Homo sapiens: one gene and its partners. The protein of the gene in region 3 interacts with the protein of the main gene of each other region in a pairwise test. Each region holds a gene or a part of one and is shown on either strand. Other genes may lie near its edges.

What was found.
Region 1: the proteins of VKORC1L1 (region 3) and LPL interact in binary tests that used the Homo sapiens proteins (3 or more experiments, as listed by UniProt).
Region 2: the proteins of VKORC1L1 (region 3) and PCYT1A interact in binary tests that used the Homo sapiens proteins (3 or more experiments, as listed by UniProt).

Annotation. Positions count from the first base shown.
Region 1 is NC_000008.11:19,940,166-19,950,827, forward strand, and holds part of LPL (lipoprotein lipase precursor), read left to right. Parts: intron 1-8,014; coding exon 8,015-8,175; intron 8,176-10,662. UniProt on the Homo sapiens protein: Key enzyme in triglyceride metabolism.
Region 2 is NC_000003.12:196,234,817-196,245,478, forward strand, and holds part of PCYT1A (choline-phosphate cytidylyltransferase A), read right to left. Parts: intron 7,825-10,662; coding exon 7,746-7,824; intron 7,275-7,745; coding exon 7,132-7,274; intron 4,920-7,131; coding exon 4,731-4,919; intron 4,079-4,730; coding exon 3,872-4,078; 3' UTR 1-3,871. UniProt on the Homo sapiens protein: Catalyzes the key rate-limiting step in the CDP-choline pathway for phosphatidylcholine biosynthesis.
Region 3 is NC_000007.14:65,942,759-65,953,420, forward strand, and holds part of VKORC1L1 (vitamin K epoxide reductase complex subunit 1-like protein 1), read left to right. Parts: intron 1-5,912; coding exon 5,913-6,022; intron 6,023-10,662. UniProt on the Homo sapiens protein: Involved in vitamin K metabolism. Can reduce inactive vitamin K 2,3-epoxide to active vitamin K, and may contribute to vitamin K-mediated protection against oxidative stress.

The DNA of each region.
Region 1 (10,662 bases), on a different chromosome or scaffold from region 3:
GCGTCCCACCCGCTCTGGGGAGCCCCGGACTCTCTCCAGCTTCCAGGCTCGCATGCCCCTCTTTTCTTAGTGCCCTGAGAACCCAGCGAGGGGCTGACCCTCCCGAAACCGTGGCGCAGCCACCAGCAATCTGTGGTCGCCGACTCGGGGGGTTGCCAGGTCTGCGTTTGGCCACCCTTTCTGTCCTGGGGGCTGAGGTCAGCTCCGGGCGCCCGGCCCCGCCGCGCGGCTGCGAGCACGTGGGGTTGACGGGCGCCGCGTGGAGGCAGCGAGCACAACGGTGGTCACCGCCGCCAGGGAACCGCCCGCTCGCTGGGGTCCAGGCGTTCGGGGCCAAATGAGAATGTCTCAGACCTGTCCGCAATGGAGGCAGCCTGCTTAATTCGAACCTCGATTCAGTAAACATGCAACAGCAGCATAGAGAGCAGCTGAAGCCATTCATAACACGGGACAACATTTCCTTTTTTCTTCCATGCTGGAATTGCAATTAGGGCGGTGTCGCTTGGATGTGCTCTCAGGCGGCACGTCCCCAGCGGTTCAAGTTATAATAGAGTCTCTCCATAGCTTTGATGGCCGCTAAACGTTTGTTTTATTTTGGCATTAATTTGTGAAACATTTTTGTTAGGTTAAAAAACAAAAAGTTGGCAGGGAGCAGTGGCTCACCCATGTAGTCCCAGCACTTCGGGAGGCCGAGGCCGGAAGACAGCTTGAGCCCAGAAGTTCGAAATCAGCCTGGGCAACATAGGGAGACACCGTCTCTATAAAAAAAAAATACAAAAATTAGCCGGGCGTGGTGGCCTGTGCCTGTGGTCCCAGATAGTCAGCAGGCTGAGAGATCACTTGAGCCAGGGAGTTTCAGTAGACTGCAGTGAGCTGTGATTGCCCCACTGCACTTCATCCTGGGTGACAGTGAGACCCTGTCTCATAAAATTAAAACAAAACAAAACAAACACTAAGTATAGATTCCATCAAAGCAAAATTGGATAAGAAAAAAAGTATCTTTTCTATTGGATCAGTTTGAAAACACTGGAGAGTTGATGAGAAAGTCTTCAACATCTTAGGTGGGGTATGTTTCGTATGTTTCCCTTCGTACTGCTTAATGCTGACAAGAAGATGGTAGGAGCCAACTCCAAATTCTTATTTCAGAAAGCACACCATAGAATAACGTCATTTTCATTGCAAAACAAGCACCGAAATATGTCATCACATTCAAGTTTTTCCTAGGCTCCCTTACAGGTTCAAGATCCTAAATTCTTGGGAGTCAGTGTCACCTCTCTGGGTTTAGGTTCCTCAACTCTGCAATGAGTTTGGATGAGGCCAATGTTCTCTGAGCCTGGTGTAACTCTTGCCTCTTTAAGTGGACACTTATGTGATTAATTAGTTTAATTGAGTTGTAGCCAACACATGCTTTTCCTAGCTGTAAATATATTAAGGAAGGATTATTTCCAAGTAGACTGGAAACGATGCCCTCCCATCCCCTCCACTTTCACTCTACTCACCCAATATATCATGCCTCTCCCATCACAGCAACTTTCTCCCTCTTTCTCCTCCAGATGCATTCATCTAGGAAGGTAAGAATTTCAGGGAGAGAAAGATGTCACCGTGGTAGAAAGACAGGGATCACCTCCTCTGGGCTCTTGAGTTTACTTATTCATTCTGGATTCTTTCTAACAAGAATATGAGGACAAGAGGCACTGTCCTCAGGCACTTCGTCCTGGGAGCCACCACCATCTCTGCATGGCCCCAATTAGGAAACGTGAAGAGCTAGGAGAGGGAGAGTATGGTCAGTGCTTAGCAGCTGAAGTTCCACTTGCCTGGCCATCGTGAATTTCCAGGCTGTCTTCTGAGTTGAACATGATGGCAAAGGAGAGCAAAATAGCAGATGTCACTGAAGGAGAGCTCAGCGAGGGAGTGATTGATTAATAGCTGTATTGAAAGGTGGGAGTCAGGTACGGGGGAAGAGCGGCGATGGAAAATTTTCGCTTTCTTTCAGCAGCTTATTTTTAACTCAGCTTTCTGTTCTTGCTTTATTATGGAGGAAAAATTGGGCCATAGAGTTTACTGCCTTATGCCAGATTGTTCAAGAAAATGCCTTGCAACTTACAATATTTTGCAGCTAGTTTCTTCCGTGACCACCACAAAGACTGCATTGACTTAAATATGAAGATGTTCCAGCCATCAAAATGATGGTTGGTGATGATTTTGGATCACAAAGTGTAAGGAAAGTATTCAAGACATGAGTATCATGATTTTTTAAGGTCTGGATGAAGAGACCATTTGGATTTACTAATAAGGTAAATTCCAACTTTTATGGCAATAAAAACAACAAAAACACTTATCAGTGTAAAGCTTTGGGATCATCTATCCATTAAATGAGTTTGTCACCACAGTGAACTAAATACCTTTTATCAACAGAGACTTTCTAACCTGGGAGTAAAATTCTTGTCACAGTGCTTTTGTCACATTCTGTCTTTGCAAAAGTTGAAGGCTCCAATAGTTTCTGAAGGACTAATAGGATAGGGTTCCAACTTACTCAGAGGCTAAGAGTTTGAAATTTACTCTGAACGATGTCTGTTCACTAGACTGCGTGACTGCAGTTTGCTGTCTTGTGGCCATTTTAAGATTGTCTGTGTGCACTGACACCATTTGCGTACTCAACAACAGGTATCTACTAGGAAGGAAGGAATGGATTATCTTAGGTGCTATATATATATGTAAGTTCTGCCGGAAGTGAGCCTATTAAACTTGTGCCAATTCATTCCTTTTGCTCTTCCCAGTCTGTGCTCTCAGAATGATCAAATGCTATCTAAGTAGTGTGGTGATTTTGACTGTTTGAATGAATAAACGAAAACGTCTCCCACCATTATTTGACAGTAGAATAGAACAAAGATGACCCAGTTGGCGTGGCCACACTGTGTCTAATCCAGCCACCTTGCTCACAGCACTCAACCCACTTTGGTGTGTGCGCTCATCTGTATTTTCGTAAATGTTGAAGTCTCTTTCTATGCAGTCAGGTAGGGGTAATACCATTCTGGCTTGGATTAATTTGAGTGTAGTACAAAGTTTAGAGAAGCTTTTAAGTAGCATGAAAAGTCAGATGCTTTCGGAGGGATGGTGGTGAATGTAGGTAAATGGATCTGCACTTAGAGATCCTCAACAGCCCTTCATTCAAGATACAGCTATCATGACATCAATAATGTACCTTTGAAAAAAAATTGGCTGCAGAATTAATTACGGTGAAAAACAGTATAGGAGTTAGCACTTACATTTTAACTAAAAAGAATAGCGTCCCCATGTTTATTCAGCCCTCCCTCCAATAAAACAATTGTTGGCAAAGTAATCATGGACTTTCATTGTGTTAGTTTGAGACAACTGGATGTTTCCATTTGCCATCCTCAGCAACAAGAAGAAAGTAGTCTCAGATTAACCAGGTAAGTATTTTGTATTTCACTTAAAAAATCTTGACTGAAATATGCCTATGTGATGACACTCAACCAAATTATTTCATTAACCAGTCCACAAGATCTCCTTAAATAATGATGGCTTATTCACACTTGATGGTCTCATTCAGTGGGGCAATTTTAATACACATCTCTGAACCTATTTTTTAACCCCTCTTTTTCAGTAGTGTGGAAGGTTAGCCCTAATATTGGAGAAAATTCAGGGTAAAATTCAGATGATTCATACAGGATTTATTTTTCCTATTCCATTAATAAAACAACTTTTATAAAAATAAAAAGTAGGCTGGCACAGTGGCTCACTCCTGTAATCCCAGCATTTTGGGAGGCCGAGGCGGGTGGATCATGAGGTCGGGAGTTCAAGACCAGCGTGGCCAGGATGGTGAAACCCCATCTCTACTAAAAATACAAAAATTAGCCAGGCGTGGTGGCAGGCACCTGTAATCCCGGCTACTCGGGAGGCTGAGGCAGAGAATGGCTTGAACCCAGGAGGCATAGGTTGCAGTGAGTCACGATCGTGCCACTGCACTCCAGCCTGGGTGACAGAGCAAGACTCCGTTTCAAAAAATAATAATAAAATAAAATGAAATAAAGTAAAGCTGCATGTTAGAGAAGTCAAGAGCATTACTTACGTTAGAATATCTGAACAGACCAATCAATTCAGTCTGATCATGATATTGATGTTTTTCTTCACCAAATCGACCACATCAGTAATTCACTTTGTTCTTCGATATCCTACAGACACTGCCTGAGTCGATAACTATGACTATCAGTCTCAGAGAGCAAATGAATTACTGAGGAAGCCCTGTAGGAGTGAGAGAAAAGGGGGGAGAGAGAGAGAAAGGGGTGGGGGGATAACAGGAGAACAGAAATTCCAAAGAGAATTGCATTCTCATTGAGTTCTTGTACCTCATGTCATTGCATAAATGTTCATCTTACTCACGTGATGACTTTGATCTGCCTTTAAAGCACCATCTGCTGCTTTCCTGGGATGCTCAACACTTCCCTCTTTCTAGCAACAAGAATTACCACTCTTCCCCTCTATACATTTATCTTTCTCTACGTGCTTTAACTTCTCAGCCTAATTTCGTCTCTGTGAGTTATTATCTATGTTAGAATAAATTCTTTGTCTTTGTTTACACACTCAGATTTGTAGTTATTTATTTAGGAATTTAGGAATAAAGATTCCATAGTCAGGAAAGGCACAATTTATAACTTGCGTGTTACCCAAAACTCTCCCCTAAGGGCTTAATATGGACATTTCTGACGAGGCCTGATGGGCAGGTGGTACGGTGATGCTAAGTTAAATTCAGAATGAAGGCCTGCCTTTCCTTCCCTCCTTCCTTCCCCTTCCCCTTCTTCCTTCCTTCCTTCCTTCCCTCCATCCCTCCCTCCTGTACTCCTCTTCTTTCTCAATTCTAAGGTGGCCTTAATTTCTAAGGGACATGGCAAAAGACAGTCTAGTTGGATGAGTGCAGTCACTAATATTATTTCCATGTATGGAAAATAACTGTTTCCTTAGTAACAATTGCATCAAATCAGTTCACCTGCTGCCCAATAGCAATCACAGGATGCATTGGGACAAATAAATATACTGACTGCCCCACAGCCACATGGTCTAAGTCAGTTACTGGAGAGCTGACTGAAGTTTGGGAAGCATATTCATCTTACGACACTGAGACATCCTCGGGGGGTTGCAAACACAGGTAGTGTGAAAATTATCAGAACATCCAAGAAAAGGAAAGTTTGACTAAGTGCCGATAAGATTTATGATGTCATGTCTGACATAGAATTGAAACCATCACAGAGCACATAGAGTGGTATATTTTCCTGTCAAATGAAAATCATTTTCTTTAAAAGTGAAATGAAAGTCTCTAAATACAAATTTACTAGAGGATGTGTAAATTTCCTACTTTTCATTACATACTCTGGACCCAACAGAGGGAAATTGGAGCTGTCAGTGAGCCATACATGCAATCTGGTACAGGATCTATGGATTGAATAGACTTTTTTTCATGGAACTACACAAAGCCAGTCTTAGTCATTTCAAAGAAAATTTGTGGTCATTTCAAAACCACCAGCAATTCCAGGGACACCAAGTTGCATAATTCTAGGGGAAAGTGGACTAAAAGTGAATGGCAGCCTCTGGAGTTATACTGAGCATTATTCTTAAAATGTCAATTTGGCAAATAGGTGGTAAGCGAGATCTGTCTGCCAGATTGTTCACATCATCTCTGCTTTAAAAAGATTGATCATAGAATATGTTAAAATAAGACCTGTGGAGAGGAGGTATGAGCTATTTAAGGTGGAAAGGTGTGGGAGAGGGTGAAATTAGTTTTAAATTTTCTAAAGCACTTTTTAACAGGAAAAGAAGTTCTTGGGCACTGAAGGCAGAATTAGATTAAAAGTATTCAATACTCTTCCATTATCAGAGAAATAGTAAAGCTACTAGAGTGCTTTCTGGTTGGGAAGGAAGAAGGCTACCAACATCTTCAAATAAAGATGAGAAGTAGAGCATATTCTTGGTGGATGAATGGATTCACGTGTACTTTTACTATATGCAAATGAAAAGAGCTTTAAAGATCAATAGTTTAGCAAGACTCTTATTTGAATAAGTGATCTTGGAGTGTTTACCCATTGTAACAAAACTCCTTTTCTCATAATTAGAATCATTAAGAAATTTCTCCTACATTTTAGATGACGGAGGTGTGTGTGCACGTGTGTGTGTATGTGTGTGTGATCAACTCATTGCATATTTCTTAAACCACAATATTGTTTAAGGAATTTTAGAAAATAATTACTCAATAGGAAAATGTTGGCCAATCCTCAGATATTTAGATAAGGCTGATTCAAATGCCTATTCTTTCACTGTTCTCACTATGACACTCTTATTTTTATTATTGGCCTGACTTCCGCAGTTATTTTGAAGTTACAGATTTTTAAATTTTGAGTTGAAAAAAAAGAGCAAATTTAGATTAAGGAATGAGAAGTAGTCCTCGCAGCCTCATGAATCTCCTGAAATTTCGAACGGCAAAATCTAAAATCTACAAGTTATTACCTTCTTACAGTAAATAGGTGGGTGTTATGGGTCGTTTTCTTTAACTTCTTTACTTGAAAAGGAATTAAATGATTTCCCTTTAACATAACTTCCCTTTGATTGTGCTCTGCTTCATGAAGTCTGATTTTATTTGCAATATAATTTACTTCAACTATTCACTGTACCCCATGAAGATTCAGCAGCATTTATAACTATTGTCCATAGTTTCAAAAACTAGGTTGTCTTTCTCTTCTCACCAAGTTTGGGATTAACTATGAAGAACCAAAGTGAACCCTTTCAACAACAAGGTTTGCTGTGGTTTTCAAGTTTTGCCTTTGTGTGGAACATTGTAATGACATAGTGGGAAAAGAAATATTTGGGGAGAGAATTAACCATGGCTGATACATAGCACGGGTATTTCTGAACAACCTACTAAATTATTTCTTAGAACATTTTGAAGTATATCTTGCCATAGGAGTGGGAACAGTTTCATACAAAAGCCTCCTCATGCTTCCAACTTTTCTTTAAAAAATTTTTTTTAAATTATTTTATTAAAAATAGAGGCCCGGCCCGATGGCTCACACTGGTAATCCCAGCACTTTAGGAGGCTGAGGTGGGCAAATCACTTGAGGCCAGGAGTTTGAGAACAGCCTGGCCAACATGGTGAAACCTCATCTCTACTAAAAATCCAAAAATTAACCAGGCCCGGTGGCTCATGCCTGTAATCCCAGCATTTTAAGAGGCTGAGGCGGGTGGATCACTTGAGCCCAGGAGATAGCGACCACCCTGGGCAACATGGCCAAACTTCATCTCTACAAGAAATACAAGTTAGCCTGGCGTGGTGGCACGCACCTGTGGTCCCAGCTACTCAGGAAGCTGAGGTGGGAGGATCACTTGAGTTCGAGGGTGCAGTGAACCAAGATCGCACCACTGCACTCCTTTGGCCTGGGACACAGAACAAGACCCTGTCTCAAAAAACAAAACAAAACAAAACAACCCCCCCCCCGCCCCACACACACACAAATAGTGGAACTATAGCACACAAGAGCCATGCATGAGTCAGTGTTCTCCACGAAAGCAAGCTTCAAAGTGGAACTGAGAGACCGGGCTCTGATCCTCACCCTCCCACTAATACCAGGGTAGCCTCAGCCAAGTCACTTAAATTCATGTCTTGAGAGAAGACAGAATTAACTAAGGAATCCCCAAACAGCAGTTCCCTTAGTTGAAATCACAAACGTACACACACATACCCTGACTAAGGAGAGCTTCAAGAAAGGCTGGAAGACTTAGGAGAGGTCAATGGTGACAATCTTAATTCAGAGTTAAGGTTGTCTCTCTGTCAACTTTGCTCAACGTTGGAGCATCTGTTGTTCTCTTGCAATCCACATTCGTTTTCGAAAACACTTCAGAAACAAAAATAGCATCAGCGGTGGTTGCCTGTGAACCTAAAACATATCATTCCAATGAATAAAATCAAGCAACCCTCCAGTTAACCTCATATCCAATTTTTCCTTTCCAGAAAGAAGAGATTTTATCGACATCGAAAGTAAATTTGCCCTAAGGACCCCTGAAGACACAGCTGAGGACACTTGCCACCTCATTCCCGGAGTAGCAGAGTCCGTGGCTACCTGTCATTTCAATCACAGCAGCAAAACCTTCATGGTGATCCATGGCTGGACGGTAAGGGAGGCTCTTTGGGGAAGAGTGGATTGGGGTGGTGAGGTATCCTGACTGGCCTGCCCAATTGTTGGGGACCCAGTGATGGGTCCGCACCCCACATCTCACGTGGATCTCCTTACACTTGAATAAAGACAGTTCTGGCTCAGGTGGGATCTGAAGCCACAGGTTCATGAGAACTCCCCCTAGGCAGTGCCAGCCTTCATTTTAACACTGTACCTGGTTGGTGCCCTTGAGCCAGAGCTTCCTGCGAGGTTGGTAAAGGATGCTCTGCCCAGCTACTGAGCAGAAGATAGGTGATTGCTGTGGGGAACCGGTGGAACCCTGGCATGATCCCGCATCACCCAGCACATTGCCAGGAGAACCTTTCTAAAGAAGACAGCATGGAAGAGTGAGGAGAGGGCTGGAGTGGAGTGAGGAAGTGTGGCGTCCATGCTGGCTTTGCCATTCTCCAGCTCTGTGCTGTGGATCAAGTCACTTGTCATCTCTGGGCCTCCATTTACTGATCTGTAAAGCAGAGGTTGCACTAGATGTCCCTAAAAACACTCTACTTCCAAAATTTTCCAGTTGTAAACTTTAGGGAGCCTTTCTGGAAATTAAAAAAAAAAAGGGCTGGGCAGGGAACTGACATGCTGACATGCCAGATGATTAGAAAAAGTGAAACTGTGATTAAATTTACTTTAAAAAATTGTTAAAAGTCCCCTCTCTAATATGTCACACAGTCACTTTAGATTATGTAGTTCTTGCTTAGTTTGTTTTAAAATGTTTCAATCCCAAGTGAGTAGACTGTGTAATTTATTTAAAAGGATTTGTGTAAAATGGCTTGTTAAAGATATATTATCTATCCATTATGTCAGAGCTTGTGAATATTATAATACTAATTTCTAGTGAGAACTAACTAAAAATAACATTCATCTAGTCCACATTTCTTTTCCTACATAATTTAAGTGGCTTTGTTATTGACTGAAGAGGACAATCGCTACAATTTTTATAGAGATGAGACTACTACTAACAGAATTCACACAGATGTTTAACAAAATATAGCCATTTACTATGTTAACATAGTAAATTCAATATTTTGTGATAAAATCTCAAATTCCTAAACATAAATCCTTTAATATTTTAATAGGTGTAAGTAGGAAAAAGGAATCTTTTTCTTTTTTGAGATGGAGGCTCACTCTATTGCCCAGGCTGGAGTGCAGTGGCGCGATCTCGGCTCACTGCAACCTCCGCCACCTGGGCATAAGAGATTCTCCTGCCTCAGCCTCCCGAGTAGCTGGGACTACAGGCGCCCACCACCACACCCGGCCAATTTTTATATTTTCAGCACAGGCAGGGTTTCACCCTGTTGGCCAGGCTGGTCTCGAACTCCTGACCTCAAGTGATCTACCCACCTTGGCCTCCCAAAGTGTTGGGATGACAGGCGAGAGCCACTGCATCTGGCCCAGAAAAAGGAATCTTTAGAGGCCCTTTGGTTATATACAGAACTTGGATTTTAAAATTTTTCAAAAAATCTGAGCTTAATAAACGCATTTATACAACAGAAATAAATTGAGTATCTCAGTCATCTCAATCTTATCCCTGAGAGAATTTTATACTTTGGGAAGTTGTGGGAAAAAAATGGTTCTTTTTCATACTAAGATGACATGACCAACCCAATATCAACAGACGGTGCCACTTCCTATCATTGGTCCTACTGCCTCACTAAGCCCACCTGTATCTTTCACATCATGTGTCCTGACATTTTGAGTGCTTGAGCACAGAGACTGCTGTCTGGCTGTGGGACTGAGTTGGGTCTGTGCAAGAACTAAGCCAGCCACACTGATCTTGATTATCTCAGTGAACTCACTGGCAGGGTCAGGTGGCCCACCTGGTATAGGCAGCAGGGAGGGCTTCAGTTCAGCTGCGTGTCTGAAAACCAAAGATTTAAAACATAGTAATTATTGAACCTCAGAAGAAAAACTCAGATTGAAAGAACTTAGAATAAGACCCTTTTTGAGTTGAGAAAGGTGAGTACTTAGATTTTTCATTTGCTTTGTTTGGGATTACTTACATCAGTATTTTATGTTGATCAGAAAGAAAGGATTCAATTAGCTATTGTTCGGTTAATAAAAATGTCAGCCACTGTAGGAGTAAGTTGGATGTCCAGCCTTTTTAGATTGCTTAACTTGGAAACACTGGGCTGGGAGCGGTGGCTCATGCCTGTGATCCCAGCACTCTGGGAGGCCAAGGCAGGCAGATCACTGGAGGTCAGGAGTTTGAGACCAACCTGGCCAACATGGGGAAACCCAATCTCTACTAAAAAAATACAAAAAAATTAGCCAGGTGTGGTGGTATGTGCTTGTAGTCCCAGCTACTCAGGAGGCTGAGGCAGGAGAATCGCTTGAACCAAGGAGGCGGAGGTTGCACTGAGCTGAGATCATGCCACTGCACTCCAGCCTGGGCGAGACAGTAAGACTCTGCCAAAAGAAAGGAAAGAAAGGAGGGAAA
Region 2 (10,662 bases), on a different chromosome or scaffold from region 3:
TGGAAAAATAGAAGCTAGGGACCACTCTTTATCCGATGGCAGTCTATTCTATGAGAGAAAACAAGAACAATCATTGTTATGACTTTGAAAAATAGAACCTTTAAAAATACTTATATTGGTAAGCTTAAAAAAATATCATCAGTTAAAAACATTAAGGGGGCTTTCTTTTTCTACCTGTATTGGTTCAACTTCTGGTGAGAATGTGTGCTGATAGAAAATCTAGAAGCTATGGCTTTTAGGGAATTAAAGAAAAGCAGCAAAATATAATTGATTTGGAAAGATTTTGGATAAGTGATCTGGAACAGGATTAAAAAGGCAAAGAGCTCTTGAAAATAAGCTACCCATAGTCAAAATAATCCAGGAAGGGGGAATGACGCCCTATGAACCACTGTGGAAAGAACATCTAGAGATGGTCTGACCAGCTGTGCAGCCTCCAAAAAAAAATCACTATCGCTCAGGTGCAGCCCCCCAAAAACCACCATCACTCAGGTACAGCCTCCAAAAACACCACCATCACTCAGGTGCAGCCTAAGGAGTCATCAGTGATCAGAAAGTGGCTAAGTTTCCTTAGCCTCCCTCATATTTTTTCTCTTCTTCAGGATTTTCAACCTCCTCACATCCCTAACTTTCTTACCCAAGCCTCAGCAATATAATGGTCTTTGGCTCTAGCTATCAGCAATAGCTGCAAGAGCACAAATGATCCCTTCCTAGTCCTCTAAAGTGTCAACCTCCATTCTTCAGTGCTTCTGAATCTAGCATAAGACCAAGCTTTCCGTCCGGCCCACCGGAAGGCAGTGGCTGCGCCGGCACCTCCCCGGCTCTGGCCTTCTAATGTCTCACACACAGAGGCTCTGCTCTAAGGCCAACACTTCTGGCTCTCTCATCTTGGCCACATTTGGCCCACCCATGTTGACTGCTTTCTCGTGTGTGATTCAGGGAAACAGCTCCATAGCCTCAAACGTTAATATCTGAAGATTTAGATCCCAGGCATTGTGGTGGTGTGCACACCTCTAACCTCATTTAATTAGGCACAGATGACCACATTATGCAACTTCCCAACAGCTTTCTCCATCTACCCGTGCTAGTCCAGCACCTCAGACCACATTTACCCCAAAGTATCTAACAGGCCACACTATAAAAGATTTTAGCTTTCAGTCAGACAAATAGCTTTCAGTCAAAACGATTAGACTGAGGTGGTAGAAGCTCACCAAAAGGGGAAAGGGAGTTTCCCAATAACATGTACGTTTGCTGGCCCTAGCAGTCTCAGAGGCCTGTCAGCCTGCAGGTCCCGTTCCAAGCACAGGGCATGCCAAGAGCAGCCCACTGAGAGCAGAGGAAGAGGGCTCAAACATTTGGGACCCAGACAATATATTTAGGAGGTATGGCTCCAATAGGGAGGGAGGAGGAAAACCACGTTCCGGGCATCTCCCTGTCTATCCAAATACACTTGCATAATGTGCACTTGGAGGAACCAAGCAGATGGGCTTCAGCACAGACTTCACTGCCACACCACACCAGGGAGAATAAGTTAGACAGAAACAGGCAGCATTCCCAAAGAGAGAAGGCTGACGCAGAAAAGTTCAAAGATGAGACTATGTAACACTGGGTAACACAGGAAAACACTAACTTCAGCTGTTTCAAAGACAGACAGGATTCCAAGCCAAAGCTTGTATGACCAGATTTAAGAGTAAGAACTGCGCTTCAAAGAAGAGTTAGAAATGTCGTTGTCATAGGCGATCAGGATAACAAGAGGCTTCATTCTCCCTCGCCTCTGTGACGCTCTTTCTGGGTGATCCAAGTTTTGTTTTTTTTCTAGTTGATTATTTCTCTTTATTTCTGTATGTGTGTGTGGTTTTTGTTTTGTTTTGGAGACAGAGTCTCGCTCTGTCACCCAGGCTGGACTGCAGCGGCACCATCTCTGCTCACTGCAACCTCCGCCTCCTGGGTTCAAGGGATTCTCCTGCCTCAGCCTCCCAAGTAGCTGGGATTACAGGTGCCCACCACCACGCCTGGCTAATTTTTGTATTTTTAGTAGAGATGGGGTTTCACCACGTTGGTCAGGCTGGTCTCAAACTCGTGGCCTCAAGTGATCCACCAGCCTCAGTCTCCCAAAGTGCTGAGATGACAGGCGTGAGCCACCACGCCTTGCCTGGGTGATCCAAGTTTTAAGAACCAAGGTAGTCCTGCTGTGCAGGCAATGATTCTAGCCTCTGACCCTCAGGCGGAAAACTAGGTGTTACCAGAAAGTGTTTAGGGAGTGGACTATGAGATGCTCACAGTCCTAGCAGAGGCAAGGAAAGAGAAAATGTGGTTTTCTTAGCTGAAAACACTAAAATTCCACCCCCACAAGGGGTATTTATGAGTGACAGGGGTGGGGCCTGGACATAAGCAATTTTCCCCTGGATCTAGCCACAGGATTACTGATGGGTGATGATCTGCTAGGCCGCGTAGCTAAGCAGCTAAGGAGACAGGAGGCCAGGGCTTTAAAAGTTAGAGCATGCTCAACAGCAAGTGCTAAGCATTAGCATTCTTTGATTTGAAAGTCAAGTGTTGAATCCCCCCGGGCAAGCCAACAAGGCAGATGGAACCACAACCACCAGGCGTGTGTGAAAAGTGGGGAGAAAACCTACCACACTCTTGTCACGTGAGGGTATGCTCTGTGGCTTGCTGGAGGAGCAGCAGAGGGAGGTCCCTGCCAGCTGCAGCTCTCAGAGGAAAAGAAAGATGTGGAGCACTGGTTCCAGGGAAGAATGTTCTGAAGAGGGACAGAGGTCAAGGTGATAAGGCTGTTGCTTTAGAAAGGAAGGTGTTTCCTATGCTTTTGCCTTTACATTCTGTGCAAATCTCTCTAATATGGCTATGACCAAAATGGATTAACATCAAGTTCCAACAGCAGACATTTACAAAGTATCCTTTGTAAAAGGCTAGGTAATATTAATAGCATTCAAATAGGAGTAGCAGGGCCAGGCACTTACTCCCAGTAGGAAACTAATCTCAATCGACTTGGTATAGGATTGAGTATTGTCCCGCTCCTCTCCTCATCATTGTAACTCTAAAAGTGTTCCTTCCTTCGAAGGTAGATGGCACGAAAGAGACTGACAAAAGCTCCCAAAGAACTGGGTCACAGAGTTTTCTGAGAAGATGAACACAGCAGAAACACTGCAGTTGATGCCATGGGTCTGCTTCCATCCCCATCAGTGTCTTCATGGACCCCATTGGGTCCAACAAGAAACTCCTCAGGGAGTAAGAAAAGTTAGGTTCAGATCTCCTTCCCGCAGCCACAATGACACTGGTGACAGCAGTACGTTCAGGGGATTTGTGACTGTAACTCTGCTTTTCGCTTTTCCTTAAGGAAATCAAAATTAAGATATTTCTCCACAAATTACCCATCAGCGTGGCTCATTTCGTGAAGGACTTGGCAAGCCACATAGCTTCAGAACGGAAGGCAAATGCTATAGTATACCGGGAAGAAAAGGCCTCTGCGTATTACACTACCTCCTTCTTCTGCCCACTCCTCAGGGGCAAAAAATTAGTTCTACATTTGAAAGACGAATTTTTTAAAAAATTAATGAAAATGACAATTTCCCTGTTGAGATCACGTGAACATAAACAGTGAAACAAAGCCCTTGGGGGGGGGTAAATGGATGCAGAGCAGGCTTCTAAGGTGCAGTCCCCCTCCTTCGTGTGGGTGAGTGATGTCACTTGCAGGACAGGCTGTTTGGGTTCCCCCAGTCCTAGGTCTTCTTTCCCCAGTTGTCTTTCCTTTGTAGCTGTCCTTAGGTTTAGTGTTGGGGTCACAATTTGGAATTCAACAGAGAGCTTCTGAAGGTAATGGGACAGAAAGGGAGGACAGGAAAGGAGGGAGGAAACATTAGTCTTCTTCATCCTCACTGATATCATAGGCTGCAGCCTTGTGCCTGGAGAGATTTGCTGGGGAGCAAGGTGGGGAAGTCTTGCCGGAGAAGGGCCATCGGAAAGAGGGGGAGGGGGAGCGCTCGCGAGTAGGGCTGCTGCTGGGGCTCTGCTTCGGGCTGATGGCCTGCAGCATCCGGCCCTTCCCCTCTTTCAGCATATGTTTCTGCAGAAACCGAAAGGAAGAGTCAGAAAAACACCGTGGATCCTACTTAATCATCACTGAAGCATCTAGGACTGGGATAGTCTATGCTGTACTATTTATTTAAGGGTTCTCCCCTGCTGTCATCACCCGGGAAATTCCCCATTCTTCCTCAATAATCTAGTCTAGGATTATTCTAATTTATCCAAACACCTTCACAGACAGATCCTTCCTGATATCTAACCTAGGACTCACTTGCTCAATCTTTTATTTGGTTGAAAAGACTGCTACTCCTCAAAGACAGAATTCCCACCTTACCTGGGGTTCCTGCTGCAGCTACTTGTAGTGGAGGCTGCTTTCTTTTTATTGTTCTTTATTCTTTCCTTTCCTTCTATCTAAAATCATACCACAGATAAAAGCTGGGCAAGGCGACTTGCTTATCTTGTCACCAGACTTTAAGGTTGAGAGAGAGCTGGCAAAATTATCTAGGAGAATGTGTAACGTCTTTCTGTAAAGGTTTCAAAAACCTTGCTGGGGACAGTTGAAAGATAGTTCTGCCCAGATAAGGGGATAGACTAGATAACTTCTCAGTGTCGATGCCCCTTCCTGCTCAATGATTCTGTCATTCTTTCCACAACATGGAACTCCCTACATTGTCCAGTGGGAAAGAACATACCAGTGCTCCTTCCGGACCAAACATTTCCAGAAAACTTCCAATGAATTCTCGGGACTTCTCCTCCCACTTCTGAATGAGGTCAATGCTTTTTTCCTCCACCTTCTGAACAAATTCTTTTGACTTTTCCTCCACATCTTTCACTTTCTTCTTTACTTTGTCAACCCTCTCCTGCAAGTGGTATTTCTTCTCCTAGATAAAGAAATAACTCTTCTGAGAAATAATGCTCATCCTAAACTTCTCTACCATAAGAGAACGAAAAAACATGGCTCAAGCACTCAATTGACACTGTTTTCAGTCTAGAATTTTGCTTTGCTTTAATCTACCCCACTCTCAGCATAATAACAGATAAGATATGCTGTGGATGCACACACAAGAAGTGGTAATTCTAATATTGTGGGCATTTGGGAATAAACTAAAAATATAGGCTATACCCAGTAACAGGCACGTAGCCAAATAAAGTCAGAGTTTTAAAGATAAAACATAAACTTGGAACATAAACATGCGCAGCATGGCCCGAACCTCATTCCAGACGGAGATACAGAGGCAGCTAAAAGATCACTGCACAATACTGCCAAGAATAAACTAATTACAATAGATTGAAAGAGAAAATACTAGATCTTTTACTTAATTAATCTGCTTATTGTACTGGATTTTTCCCCTCTATCACTGGCTTATTCTATTATTTTAAATGAATTGTGTTTTTTGCTTTTTGTTCCTTTAGTATTTTAAGGTCCATTTACTCATTTGCAAAATGATGATACTCGTTGGTCTTACCAACTTTGCTAAAGATAAGGAAAATGGTATAAACCCTCCGGTGGAAGGGAAGGGAGTATTTAGTCAAATGAGAAGTATCCTTGGCCAGGCACAGTGGCTCATGCCTGTAATACCAGCACTTTGGGAAGCCGAAGTGGGAGGACTGCTTGAGGCCAGGAACTCGAGAGCAGCCTGGACAACATAGCAAGACCTCATCTCTACTAAAAATAAAAATATAAAAAATAAGCTGGGTATGGTGGCCTGTGCCTGTAGTCCCAGCTACTCAGGAGGCTGAGATGGGAGGAGCACTTGAGCCCGGAGGTCAAGGCTGCAGTAAGCCAAGATTGCGCCACTGTACTCTGGCCTGGATGACTGAGTGTGACTCTATCTCAAAAAAAGAAAAAGAAAAGTACTCTCAAAATTTCCAGATCATAAAGAGAAAAGGGATTATGTTTAGAATTTTTAAACACCTGATTTTTATGGGAAAAATAAAGCTATAGTAAGTAAATTAACAAGAGCTAGGGTTTATCTGCCTAGATAAATCATATTTAGATGTAATCATTTTATCCATTCTTATAGCACAATTTACAGAGATGGGAGTAGGTCAGGGAGCATGGTAAACTGGTTATGTAGAAGACATTAAAGTTAGCAGCTTTCTTCTTTTTAAATCGATTTTATTGAGGTCTAATTTACATACAAAATGTATAGTGTTGGCTGGATACGGTGGCTCATGCCTGTAATCCCAGCACTTTGCGAGGCCAAGGGGGTCCGATCGCTTGAGGCCAGGAGTTTGAGACCAGCCTGGCAAACATGGCAAAACCCCATCTCTGCTAAAAAAAAAAAAAAAAAAAAAAAAAAAAAAAATTAGCCAGGCCTGGTGGCACATGCCTGTAATCACAGCTATTCAGGAGGCTAAGGCACCAGGAGACAGAGGCTGCAGTGAGCCGAGATCACGCCACTGCACTCCAGCCTCGGTGACAGAGCGAGACCCTGTCTCAAAAAGAAAGAAACACTACATATATATATATTTGCATGAATTTTTTTAGTTTTTTTGTTTGTCTGTTTGTTTAGAGATGGGGTCTCGCTATGTTGCCCCCAGACTGGTCTCAAACTCCTGGCCTCAAGCAGTCCTCCCGCCTCAGCCTCCCAAAGTACAGGCATGAACTACCATGCCCAGAAAAATATATAGAGTTTCTAAAAGGCAATATTAAGCTAAGATAAACTTAACTTTCGTCAATCCAAATTTAAAACTCAGGTCTGTGTGGGAAGTGGTGTGTCGGGTGTCACTATCCACACGAGGAGGGCTCATAGCCTTTCGCAGGTTCCCAAGACATCATCCAACCGAAGAAGAGAGAGGAAGTTTAAGAGACACCGTTTTCCATTTATTGACAGAAATACTGCACTATATAAATTACTCATTTATTTAGTTGGCTGTATGGCTTTATACGAATGTGTTGGTACCAGACCGTAACGGCAGAAACTGTCTGTTTCATTCTTTTTGTGAACAGTTAACATAGTGGTAATTCATTCACTGAACTTTTGGGAGTGATCATCAAAGCCAACTGCAAAGCCAGTTCAGCTGAGATGGAGTGGGAGGTGATATGTCTCCTACAGAGTCAGGGAACTCTGGGGTAAGGCTGGAACTCACGTTGATAAAGCTGACATTGAGCTCCTTTGCTGTGTAGCCCCTCTGCAGGTTCCGCCTCGCATACACATCATAATCCCGCACAATTCGGGTGATGATGTCTGATGTGGAGATACCTTCTGTCCTCTGTGTTGGAGCAAACATGCCTAACTCAGAAACACATACAGACAAACACTGTGAGGTTCTGGTTAGCTCAGGTATTAAGACTAAATGGAAATTGGGGGCAACATTCCTTTCCTTTCCTCAAAAAGCAGAATCTGTTATTACTAAATGAAACTGAAAGATACTGATATACAGAAGGTAGACCGAATCAAAGGCCAGAGGTAAGGCAAAGAAGAGTTACATAGCCCTAATATTAAGAAAAATATGAGAAAGGGTTTCCTGAAATTAAGAGAGATATCCAAAGTAGATGTTTAGACCAAGAATTGATGGATGTCATGAACTGACGACAAAGAATTGATGGGTGCTATGCTCATCTTTACCTTTTATCCAAAATGTGGCCTGAAAGAGGATGTTGAATTTCTAATGTACACATTTTCCTCTGTAAAGCAGCAACATGGCTGAACATCTGCAGCTGCCCTGAGATCCCCTACAGTGAGGAAGCACAGCTCACTCACCTGCCTCCTTGATGTGCTTATAAACATCATCACTGCCAGCAGATGAATAAGGAATATCATCATGGGCTACAAAATCAATCTGAAAATAAGGAAACATCATTAAAACCCATGATAACTGCCATTCAGAAAGACCCAGTCAATGTTCTCAGGCCCAGAAAAAGGACAATAGGCAGAGGCCAGGCCTCAGTGGACTTCATATCTCTCTTTGCTTTGCTCATAAATTCTACAATCTATTCACAAACCACCCAACCTAATGATTTATGGAGTATACATATGAAGTTAGCCAGCTGCTTTTGTAGCTATTTCTCCTAGTCTGCTAGAACTGTTACCCTCACTCTGTATACCAGTCATCTTGCTGTGGTCAATAGGGCCAGAGGGTTTGCTGGTGAACCGGTTAGTGGGTGGAGCCTAGGAAAGAAGGAAATCTCCCTGTCCTGGGTCTGGAAGGATTTGGTCAAATAAGGGTTTCTAAAAGTATGAGAAAGGCCAGGCACGGTGGCTCATGCCTGTAATCCCAGCACTTTGGGAGGCCAAGGCGGGCAGATCACGAGGTCAGGAGTTCAAGACTAACGTGGCTAACATGGTGAAACCCCGTCTCTACTAAAAATACAAAAAAATTAGCCAGGCATGGTGGCGGGCGCTTGTAGTCCCAGCTACTTGGGAGGCTGAGGCAGGAGAATTGCTTGAACCCAGGAGGCAGAGGCTACAGTGAGCCAAAATCGCACCACTGCACTCCAGCCTGGGTGACAAAGCAAGACTCTGTCTCAAAAAAAAAAAAAGTATGAGAAAGAGGTTACTTCTTTCTTAACTAGTTTCTCTCAGTCCGTGAGAAAAGAGGGAATATAAAAATAGCAACCACGAGCCCTCTGACTGGAATAGATACATCTATTGGCCTGAGAAATACAAACCGAAGGCCATAAGAGAAGTTTTCTCCCTCTCCCCTCTCCCTTCTCCCCTCTCCCCTCTCCCTCTCCCCACGGTCTCCCTCTCCCTCTCTTTCTATGGTCTCCCTCTGATGCCGAGCGGAAGCTGGACTGTACTGCCGCCATCTCTGCTCACTGCAACCTCCCTGCCTGATTCTCCTGCCTCAGCCTGCCCAGTGCCTGCCATTGCAGGCGCACGCCGCCACGCCTGACTGGTTTTCGTATTTTTTTGGTGGAGACAGGGTTTTGCTGTGTTGGCCGGGCTGGTCTCCAGCTCCTAACCGCGAGTGATCCGCCAGCCTCGGCCTCCCGAGGTGCCGGGATTGCAGACGGAGTCTCGTTCACTCAGTGCTCAATGCTGCCCAGGCTGGAGTGCAGTGGCGTGATCTCGGCTCGCTACAACCTCCACCTCCCAGCCGCCTGCCTTGGCCTCCCAAAGTGCTGAGACTGCAGCCTCTGCCCGGCCGCCACCCCGTCTGGGAAGTGAGGAGCGTCTCTGCCTGGCCGCCCATCGTCTGGGATGTGAGGAGCCCCTCTGCCCGGCCGCCCAGTCTGGGAAGTGAGGAGCGCCTCTTCCCGGCCGCCCATCGTCTGAGATGTGGGGAGCGCCTCTGCCCCGCCGCCCCATCTGGGATGTGAGGAGCGCCTCTGCCAGGCCACGACCCCGTCTGGGAACTGAGGAGTGTCTCTGCCCGACCGCCACCCAGTCTTGGAGGTGAGGAGCGCCTCTGCCCGGCCACGACCCCGTCTGGGATGTGAGGAGCGTCTCTGCCTGGCCGCCCATCGTCTGGGATGTGAGGAGCCCCTCTGCCCGGCTGCCCAGTCTGGGAAGTGAGGAGCGCCTCCTCCCCGCCGCCATCCCGTCTAGGAAGTGAGGAGCGTCTCTGCCCGGCCGCCCATCGTCTGAGATGTGGGGAGCGCCACTGCCCCGCCGCCCCGTTTGGGATGTGAGGAGCTCCTCTGCCCGGCCGCGACCCGGTCTGGGAAGTGAGGAGCGTCTCCGCCCGGCAGCCACCCCGTCCGGGAGGTGAGGGGCGCCTCTGCCCGGCCGCCCCTACTGGGAGGTGAGGAGCCCCTCTGCCCGGCCACCACCCCGTCTGGGAGGTGTACCCAACAGCTCATTGAGAACGGGCCATGATGACGATGGCGGTTTTGTCGAATAGAAAAGGGGGAAATGTGGGGAAAAGATAGAAAAATCAGATTGTTGCTGTGTCTGTGTAGAAAGAAGTAGACATGGGAGACTCAATTTTGTTCTGTACTAAGAAAAATTCTTCTGCCTTGGGATCCTGTTGATCTGTGACCTTACCCCCAACCCTGTGCTCTCTGAAACATGTGCTGTGTCCACTCAGGGTTAAATGGATTAAGGGCGGTGCAAGATGTGCTTTGTTAAACAGATGCTTGAAGGCAGCATGCTCGTTAAGAGTCATCACCACTCCCTAATCTCAAGTACCCAGGGACACAAACACTGCAGAAGGCCGCAGGGCCCTCTGCCTAGGAAAACCAGAGACCTTTGTTCACTTGTTTATCTGCTGACCTTCCGTCCACTATTGTCCTATGACCCTGCCAAATCCCCCTCTGCGAGAAACACCCAAGAATGATCAATAAAAATACATAAATAAATAAAAGAAGTTTTATCCTCAGGATCTATCATTTCACTACTTTTTTTTTTTTTTTTGAGACCGAGTCTCGCTCTGTCGCCCAGGCTGGAGTGTAGTGGCACAGTCTCGGCTCACTGAAACCTCTGCCTCCTGGATTCAAGCGATTCTCCTGCCTCAGCCTCCCGAGTAGCTGGGACTACAGGCGCATGTCACCCCGCCTGGTTAATCTTTGCATTTTTAGTAGACAGGGTTTCACCGTGTTGGCCAGGCTGGTCACGAACTCCTGACCTCAAGTGATCCACCTGACTTGGCCTCCCAAAGTGCTGGGATTACAGGCGTGAGCCACAGCGCCTGGCCATTTTACTGCTATGAATATCCTTTGCAAGGGCAAGAAGA
Region 3 (10,662 bases):
TAAGTGATCTGCCTACCTCGGCCTCCCAAAGTGCTGGGATTCCAGGCATGAGCACTTTTAACATGCTGGGGAAAATGATGTCTGGACCGTGCAACTTGGTGTTGTGTTACTGTCATTCTTCTATTTACTGATCGCCTATGACTTGATTTACTCTACAGAATCTTGTTAGAACAGATCATTCTGGGCTCTGTGTCAGACAATATAGTGATAACCATATAAACAATATATACTGATAGAACCAAAAATTTTGATATAAGTACAAATTATGGTATAATTGGGAGGGGGATAGGGAAATGAAAGTCTACGAAATCATAGTCTAGTTTAGCATACAGTGCTAGATGATCCAAAAATAATAAGTGGCCAGGCCTGGTGGCTCATGCCTGTAATCCCAGCACTTTGGGAGGCTGAGGTGGGAGGATCACTTGAGCCCAGGAGTTCGAGACGAGCCTGGCCAACATGGCGAAACCCTCTCTACAAAAAAAAATGTTTTAAATTTAAAAACAAAAATAATAAGGAATTTTTGTAAAAAGAAATTTGTGGGTAAATATTGAGAGAAACCAGTAAAATGAGTTGCTTCTAAGGAGGATACCTCAGGGGTCAGAAGAATGCTGCTTTTTGTTCCAAGTCTTGTAGCACTATCTGATTTTTTTAAACTATATATAACTGTAATAACATTAAAAATAATGAAAACAGCAACTTACCAAATAAGTTTACAAATCTTCCACTAAGTTCCTCAGAGCATCTTACATGTACCCATCTAAGCCTCATAATTGTTTCTCCCACCTTTTTAGACTTTCCAAGGTCCATTCTTCCTTTTTAATGGTCAGGAGTTCGAGACCAGCCTGGCCAATGTGGTGAAACCCCAACTGTACTAAAAATGCAAAAAAATTAGGTGGGGTAGTGGCAGGCACCTTTAATCCCAGCTACTCAGGAGGCTAAGGCAGGAGAATCCCTTGAACCTGGGAGGTAGAGGTTGCAGTGAGTCGAGATTGTGCCATTGCACTCCAGCCTGGGCAACAATAGTGAAACTCTGTCTGAAAAATAAATAAATAAAAATAAAGATAATTTTAAGATTATTGTTTTAAAGAATAAATGTTGATATTCTTAAGGTGGTAAAAGCAAGATAATGGCATATTTATTAGTAACAAAAATTTAAACAACAAAGAAAAAGCAAATGATTTCCAAAATATCAATAACAAATCAGTAAATAAAGGTAATCAGAAGTTTAACTTCCTTGTGGCTGGGCACAATGGCTTGTGCCTGTAATCCCAGCACTTTGGGAGGCTTCAGTGGGCGGATCACTTGAGGTCTAAAAACTACAAAAAATTAGCCAGGTGTGGTGGAACATGCCTGTGGTCCAGCTACTTGGGAGGCTGAGGCAGGAGAATCACTTGAATCTAGAAGATGAGACCAGCCTGGGCAACATGATGAAACCCTGGCTCTACCAAAAATAAAAAAAATTAGCCCTGCGTGGTGGTGGGAGCCTGTAATCCCAGCTACTTTAGGAGGCTGACACAGGAGTCTCACTTGAACCCGGGAGGCAGAGGTTGCAGTGAGCCGAGATAGCACCACTACACTCTGGCCTGGGTGACAGAATGAGACTCTGTCTCAAAAAATAAAAATAAAAGAACTAAAAGTAATTCTCAAGTGATGAGTATGTAGAGGTGGAGATGAAACAAGAAAGGCGTAATTATTGAAGCTGGGTGATGGGTACCTGGGTTTTTTTTGTTTTTTTGTATGCGTTTTGTTTTTATAGTACCCTTTCTCTTTACCATAGCAAAATAATACATGGGTGTTTATTACACTCTTGTGCTCACTTTGTGTATATGCATTTGAAGTTTTCTATAATTTTTTTTTTTAAGAAAAAGCAATATTTGGCTGGCCACAGTAACTCACACCTGTAATCCCAGCATTTGCAGAGGCCAAAATAGGTGGAATGCCTGAGCTCAGGAGTTCGAGACCAGCCTGGGCAACATGATGAAACCTCATCTCTACCAAAAATACAAAAATTAGCCAGGCACGGTGGTGGATGCCTGTGGTGCCAGCTATTCGGGAGGCTGAGGAGGGAAAATTGCTTGAGACTGGGAGGTGGAGGTTGCAATGAGTGCAGATTGCACCACTGCACTCTAACATTATTGACAGAGTGAGACCCCGTCTCAAAAAAAAAAAAAAAGCAACATTCTGGCTTACCATATTAGCGAGTCAAAAGATAATATTTAGGGCTGGGTGCGGTGGCTGATGCCTGTAATCCTAGCACTTTGGGAGGCCAAGGCGTACGGATGACCTGAGGTCAGGTGTTCAAGACCAGTCTGGCCAACATGGTGAAACCCCATCTCTACTGAAAATACAAAAATTAGCTGGGCGTGGTGGCGGGTGCTAGTAATCCCAACTACTCAAAAGGCTGAGGCAGGAGAATCACTTGAATCCAAGTGGTGAAGGTTGCATTGAGCTGAGATTGCGCTGCTACACTCCAGCCTGGGCGACAGAGCCAGACTGTCTCAAAAAGAAAAAAAAAAATAGCAATGTAAACATATTATTTAGAAATGTGGAAGTAAATAAGAGTGAAAACAGGGCCGGGCGCAGTGGCTCACGCCTGTAATCCCAGCACTTTGGGAGGCCGAGGCGGGCAGATCACGAGGTCAGCAGATCGAGACCATCTTGGCTAACACGGTGAAACCCCATCTCTACTAAAAATACAAAAAAATTAGCTGGGCATGGTGGTGGGCGCCTGTAGTCCCAGCCACTTGGGAGGCTGAGGCAGGAGAATGGCCTGAACCTGGGAGGCGGAACTTGCAGTGAGCCGAGATCGCGCCACTGCACTCCAGCCTGGGCGACACGAATGAGACTCCGTCTCAAAAAAAAAAGGTGGAAACAGTTAACAGACATCAAAGTGGATGCCTCTGGGATGAGAACTGACTTGGGGAGGGCTGGAGGAGGGAACATCTCTGTATTAGAAGGCTTTGATTTTATTTTATTTTGAAACCTTATGCATGTATAACTTTGATAATATATTCATTTGTGGATTGCCACATTGTTTTCGAGGAAAATACCCATGTGATCTTACATGAATAATCAGGCATAGACCAGTGCTTTGAATATATAAAAATTCTGTTTAGCCATGATAATTTTGGCAGTATGCCATTTATTTCTGTTGCCAAAGGCAGTGATTTAAATTGGAATTCCTGCCTGGGATGAGTAGGGCTAAGAGGTTTGATTACATATAGTTTCCCCATCTGTACTCTGGCCTCCAGCAGTTTGTTCTTTATGCAGCAGCGAAGAGTGATCATAAATAAGCTTATCTCACTCTCCAGTTTGAAAGCTACTAAACGTCTTTCATAGCAATTAGAATAAAATTCAAACTCTTCGGCATGGCCTACACACAAGGCCCTAAATAATGTAAATGATTGGACTCGCTCCCAGTTCTCCTGTCACTCTCCTCAATCACCATGCCCCAGCCTCAGTGGCCTTCCTTGGCACACCCACAGCTCATTCCTACCTCAAGGCCTTTGACTTGCCATTGCTCATGAGACCGATTGCTTACCATCACTCAGGATCTCATTCAAAACTTCATTCCTGGAAAAGGTCCTTCCCGACCATCAAGCTAGAGGAGCTTGCTGCACCCCTTCTCTGCCCACAGCTATGGATCTCCAAGTGTGGGCTTCAGACCAGAAGCGTCAGTGTTGCCTGCAAGCATTTCATTTTGTGTTGTGTTTTCTCTGGAAATGCAGAGTCTTAGGCCCCACCACAGACCCACTGAAGGAACAGCTACATTTTAACCAGACCCCAGAGTGATTGTGCTTTAAAAATTTCAGAAGCACTGATCTAGAGTTTCCCCTTCTAATTTTCCTGTGTATCTGTTACAAGGTGTGTCCATTGCTGCAGGTAATCTGGCATTTGTTTACCTGTTTATTATTTCTCTTCCCTAAATAGAATTTAAGGTCCACAAGGGCAGCACCTCGTCTGGCTCGTTCACTTCTGGATCCCCGGCACGTAGCGTCAGTGCACACAGTACATGCTCAATAAGTATTTAGATGAGTGAAAGAATAAATGAATATAATGGAAATTATTTTATGTTCTTTGAAATGTATAACTGAAGGCTGGGTGTCATAGCTCAGCCTGTAATCCCAGCACTTTGGGAGGCCAAGGTGGGAGGATTGCTTGAGTCCAGTACTTCAAGACCAGCCTTGGCACATGGCAAAGCTGCAACTCTATAAAAAAATACCAAAAAAAAAATATATATATATAGCTGGGTGTGGTAGTCTCAGCTACTTCGGGAGGCTGAGGCAGGAGAATCACTTGAACCTCGGAGGTCAAGGCTGCAGTGAGTCATGATTGCAACTGCACTGTAGCCTGGGCAACAGAGGAACATCCTGTCTCAAAAAAACAAAACAAAACAAAACAAACAAAAAGGATTGCATAATTCTACAATAAAAATCTTCATGGCTTTCACTTGTTTGTAAAATCGGGGTGATTTTTCTCTCCCAACATCATCGTTATACAGGGGTTTCATTCTATATCTTGGGCATCAAGTGCTATTAAACTATTGTGGCCTGTGAAGAATTACTTATTTATCCTTGCTTTGGGGCAGTTTGTCTTCAGAACCAAAGTTTAGATTTTGTTTAGACTGATTCTCTACTGACTTAACACCATAACTGGTTTTTTTTTTTTTTTTTAGTATTTAAGAAGCACTCTCGTTCAATCCAGAGTTAACATTATCTTTAAAGGTTTTTTATTCAAAATGAATGTTTGATATTTGTATCAAGTTTTATCAAATAAGTTAACAATTTAAAAAAAATCAGGTTTTAAAAATGTTAAGTCAAATGCAAGATTTAAAGTTAAATTGCAAATAAAAACTGATAGGGCATATAATGTATCCAGTTTTTTACATCTGAGATAGGATTCCAGGAAAGACCTATAGTTTCTGATATTATCCTGCATTTTTTTTTTTTGAAATGGAGTTTTGCTCTTGTTGCCCAGGCTGGAGTGCAGTGGTGCAGTCTCGGCCCACTGCAACCTCTGCTTCCAGGGTTCAAGTGATTCTCCTGCCTTAGTCTCCCAACTAGCTGGGATTACAGGTGCACACCACCATGTCCGGCTAATTTTTTGTATTTTGAGTAGAGACGGGTTTCACCATGCTGGCCAGCCTGGTCTCGAACTCTTGACCTTGTGATCTGCTCGCCTCGGCCTCCCAAGGTGGTGGGATTATAGGTGTGATCCACGGGCCCGGCCCTACATTTAAAAAATACATTCCCAGTATATTTCTTAATGCATATCCTGGTGAAATTTGTGAAGAAACAACTTTTCAATCTATATTCTTTGAGTGAATAAATAGCACAACTTACATTCTATGGTTTTCAACTGGGGGCAGTCGTGTCCCAGCGGATGTTTGGCAATGGCTGTGACTGCATTTTTGGTAGTCACACCTGGGATGGAGGAGTACTGGCAGCATCTAGTTGGGGGAGCTCTGGGGTACTGTTAGTTATGTAATGCACAGAACACCCCACAGCACAAAGAATTATCTAGCCCAAAATGTCAGTAGTCCACTGTTAAGAGACAGTGGACAACTGTCTCCTTCTGCATAGAGAAGTCTCCTTCTGCAAATACTAATGCCATTGGAAAACGAATACTTTGCCCTACCTTCTGGAGAAGAGAATATATAGAAATTGGCAACTGAGAGATTCAGATGGGTATACTGGCACCTTTAGATATGTTCATTTTAGATGATTATTTCTAATCAGAAATCTAGTGACTGGCCTCCCTCTCTTTGGGGCAAATCACTCTCTCAACACAGGACATTTAAGACATTTCACAACTTAGTTGATTTTAGAATTGGATAACGTTCTCAAATAATGATACATTTTTTAAAATAGGGAAATTCAAATATAGGGTTACTGGTTTTCCTTATTTTACAGATGGGGTCGAGGATTTGGTCTTTTGGGTTCCATTTTTGGAAAGGATGGTGTATTAAACCAGCCAAACAGTGTCTTTGGACTTATATTTTATATACTACAGTTATTACTTGGTAAGTATTTATCAATACAAAAATAAGTTTGTTATATTCCGTTTAGTACTTTGTGTCTTTGCCCTGAAGTGTCTTGATGTTAAAGCATGTGTTATTTATAGAACCACTAGCGTGTACAACATTTTTGTGTTATGAAAACTTGATTCACTGAGATTTTTATTATATTATTGTTGAATTTATGTCAATTGCTGTTTAATCATGGAGAGCAGTATCTCATGATGTCCAGAAAAACCAGTCCCATTCCAGGAAATTATCACTCCCATCTTCCCTGTTAACGTTTTTCCTTATTTTATAGACTCAGTGGCCTTGAAAAATATCATATATTAAGGGGACATTAACAAGAAACCATATTCATAATCCCATTACCTTTACATATCCACTATTTCCACAGTCTTCTGCTTTTAAAAATAATTTTTGGGCTGGGTGCGGTGGTGCACACCTGTAATCCCAGCACTTAGGGAGGCCAAGATAGGCAGATCATCTGAGGTTGGGAGTTCGAGACCAGCCTGGCCAACATAAAGAAACCCTGTCTCTACTAAAAATACAAAATTAGCTGGGCGAGGTGGTGCATGCCTGTAATCCCAGCTACTCATGAGGCTGAGGCTGGAGAGTCACTTGAACCCGGGAGACGGAGGTTGTAGTGAGCTGAGATCGCGCCATTGCACTCCAGCCTGGGCAACAAGAGCGAAACTCCGTCTCACAAAAAAGAAATAAATAATAATAATAATAATAACTTGGGGCCAGGTGCAGTGGCTCACACCTGTAATCCTAGGACTTTGGGAGGCCGAGAAGGGCAGATTACTTGAGCCCAGGAGCAACATGGTGAGACTCTGTCTCTGTAGAAAATACAAAAATTAGCCAGGTGTGGTGGCACACACCTGTAGTCCCAGCTACTTGAAAGGCTGAGGTGAGAGAATCACTTGAGTCCAAGAGATGGAGGTTGCAGGGAGCCGAGATCACACCACTGCACTCCAGCCTGGGGGTCAGAGCAAGACGCTGTCTCAAAAACTAATAATTTAATGTGAACTGTGTTTCAACATAGTGTCGTTTATCCTAAGTGTTATTGTTAACATCTAGGTTTCACTCCTTTTACTTCCAAATAATGCTGCAGTGATCAACTTTGTTTAAAGACCTCCTGCTCCTTCCTTCCTTTGAATTATCTCCACAAAATAAATTTCCAAGCATAGTATCAAAAAACACAGATATTTTCAATTTTAATCAGTGTTACCAATTTGCTTTTCCCTCAGTTCTTTGGTTTCCCTGAAGCTCCAGCGGTCTTTATTTTTAAGACATGCTTTGTAAAATTTCTTTTTTTTTTAATTGTAACGATAATCTTCACCTGGAAAAATTGCTAATAGTTACACATTAGTACCTATTACTTTAATTTTTACTCTTTTTAATTTCCTTTTATTGCCCATTTAGCATTTAGTTATTGGATCCCGATACTAGTACATTTTTATATGTGTTACAAACATTTTATGCATTCTTTATCCTTTTTTGTTAGTGTTATGAATTTGTATTGTATTAAGTTTTTATACTTTTAGAGTTAAATCCATCTGTTGATGCCTTTGCATTTTATTTTTCTTCTTTTTTGTAGATCTTGTTGCATACCAATGCTTTTGTATTTTAATTGTTAATATTCCATTACCTGTCAGCTCTTCTGATTTGGTTCATTAAAAATACATGTAACTCTTCTATCTGAAATTGATTTGTTATGAGGCAAATTATAAATCTAAATCATCCTCAGTAGTTCTGTCGAGTTTGCCCAGTTCCATATCTATGTATTTATCTTGCAGAAGTAGAAAGATGTGTGCACAAGGATATTCATAGCAGTACAGTGTAAAATAGCAAAAAAAAAATGGAGGTAGGTTACAAATAGATAATGGTTGAATAAATTAGAAAATACTATGAAATACTATGTAGCCATTAAAGGAAAAAGGAGATCTATGTTTATATCCTAGAAAGATAAAGACACTATTTAGTGAAAAAAGCAAATTTTGGTATAATAGGTATAGGATAAACGTGTTTGTATACATGCATGTAAATGCATAGAAAAGGGTCGGGTGGTTGGGGAGGAGGGAGAAATTTCACTAGGTATTCTGCATGTTTCCATTTTGCTGGATTTCTAGAGAAGAATATGAAGTATAAGCCCAGATGCAAGATGTTTTCCTTTAAAGGCAAAGAACCTAAGAACAGCCTTTGACTAGATTAACTCTTGAAGATAGAGGTGTGACAGCCAAATTTTTGTTTTACCATTAATTTAATGCCATGGTATATACATATTTTAAATCATATTTATCACATGTGTTTTTTCATTCGCATTTTTTGACTCGCATTTAGATGCTTCACGTGCCTTTTAATGTTGGTGTCTTCATGGGAGGCACATTTGAACTAACCTAGCAATTTCCAGAGCACAGCATCTGTACTCCCTTCTAACCTGTTTGAGACACAGCATTTTTAATTTAATTTTTTCATAGGTAATCCATTCACGTGGTTCAAAAGTTTTTAAAAAGGACCGGGCACAGTGGCTCATGCCAATAATTCCAGCATTTTGGGAGGCCAAGATGGGTGGATCACGAGGTCAGGAGTTCAAGACCAGCCTGGCCAACATGGTGAAACCCCATCTCTACTAAAAATACAAAAATTAGCCAGGTGTGGTGCCGCACACCTGTAATCCCAGCTACTTGGGAGGCTGAGGCAGGAGAATTGTTTGAACCTGGGAGACAGAGGTTGCAGTGAGCTAATGTCGCACCATTGCACTCCAGCCTCGGTGACAGAGCGAGACTCCTTCAGGAAAAAAAAAATATATATATATATACATATATAAAATGTTACACAAAGAAAAATCTATCCCACCCCTTCCCTTTATGCCTGGTTTCCAGTGCTCCTCAGCCCCGACTGGTAGCTTGTTATTGTCTCTTTATGCATATACGAGAAAGTACAAATACACAATCTTAATTTTCCTCCTTTTTAAAATATAAAAGGCAGATGCTATACCCACTGTTCTGCAGCTTGCATTTTCTTTTTTTGCCTGATGAATATATCATGGTGATTTTTCCATATCAGTATATTAAATGTCTTCATTCTTTTCTACAGCTGCAGAATAATCCATTGCATAATTGTACCATCATTTATTTAGAGTTACAGCACATTTTAAATTCCACTGGGAATTTGACCCTGAGCCAAACGTACCTAGCTGCATTACAGTAGCATTTAATGGATATCTGGTATTTATACACTATTCTAAGTGCTTTAATCCTGCATTATCTCAGCTCATTTAATTGCCCAGCAGTCTTAAGAAGTAGGCATGATTGTTATCCCAATTTTACAGTTGAGAAAAGAAAGGCATAGAGGAAGAAATAAGTTGCCCGTATCATTCTGAAGTTAACTTTCTTAGGTAAAATTGTGACCACATTAATTTCGAAATGTTAGTTGTTTAGCATAGGTGAAGTCAGCAAACTTTTTCAGTAAAGGGCCTGGCAGAAAATAGGCTTTGCCAGTTGCCGCAGCCACTCAACTCTTCTAGTATGAAAGCAGTCACAGACATTACGTAATGAATGACATTACATAAATGAATGAGCATGGCTGGGTGCCAATAAAACTTTATTTACAAAAGCAGGTAGCTGGCCAGATTTGCTAGTCCCTGCAACAAGTAATTCAGCAGCACCTTAGTCTTGAAGTGCCCTATGAAAGCATCTAGGCCCGTGGCTGTGCGGCAGCCGGCCCACAGGCGTCTTCTTGTTGCATTTTTTTTTTTGCCAACAGGGCCCAGGATTTCAGCTCTTTAACTGACTTCTTTATACCTGCTCCCACCTGTTATTTTGTTCCTGTTTCTGTTATCCTTATCCATGAGTCATTGGGTAGGAGGGTAGTTTAACATGCTCTGCCTTCTCTGTCCTTGAAAATAAATGCACATATTCTCTATACTGTTGCCTATAAGAAATTAAAAACAATACATGTGAAGATAGAGTCCAGAATTCAGGTGCCTTTTTTTTTCCTTTTTTTTTTTTTTTTTTTTTTTTGAGACAGAGTTAAGACTCTGTCGCCCAGGCTGGAGTCCACTGGTGCAATCTTATCTCACTGCAACCTCCGCCTCCTGGGTTCAAGTAATTCTCGTGCCTCAGCCTCCCTTGTAGCTGGGGTTGCAAGCGTGCAATACCATGCCCAGCTAATTTTTTTTTTCTCTTGTACTTTTTAGTAGAGAGGGGCTTTCACCATGTTGGCCAGGCTGGTCTCAAATTCCTGACCTCAAATGATCTGCCTGCCTTAGCCTCCCAAAGTCCTAGCATTACAGGCATGAGCCACTGTGCGTGGCTTCAGGTGCCTTTTTGTATTGAGAGCCTGGATTTAGCACACATGTCCACCATTTTTCTTGATCAGGTTTGACCCACATGCAGCCAACGGGCAAAATGTGGTTTCCCTTATCCACCAGGGTGAGCCCTTCCTGAAATGTTTATCAAGAGTTTCTTTTTCTCTCTTCAGCAGCTTGTTGGTGTAGTCACCTCTCATTGTGGATTTTTAATCAATTTGATCTAAACATGGAAAAGCAAATTTTACTTTCCACAGATGGGCAGGATGTAGTGAAAGTCCAGAGAAGGTTCTCACCAAATGTGTGCAGCTCGGAAGAAAAAGGTTGTGGT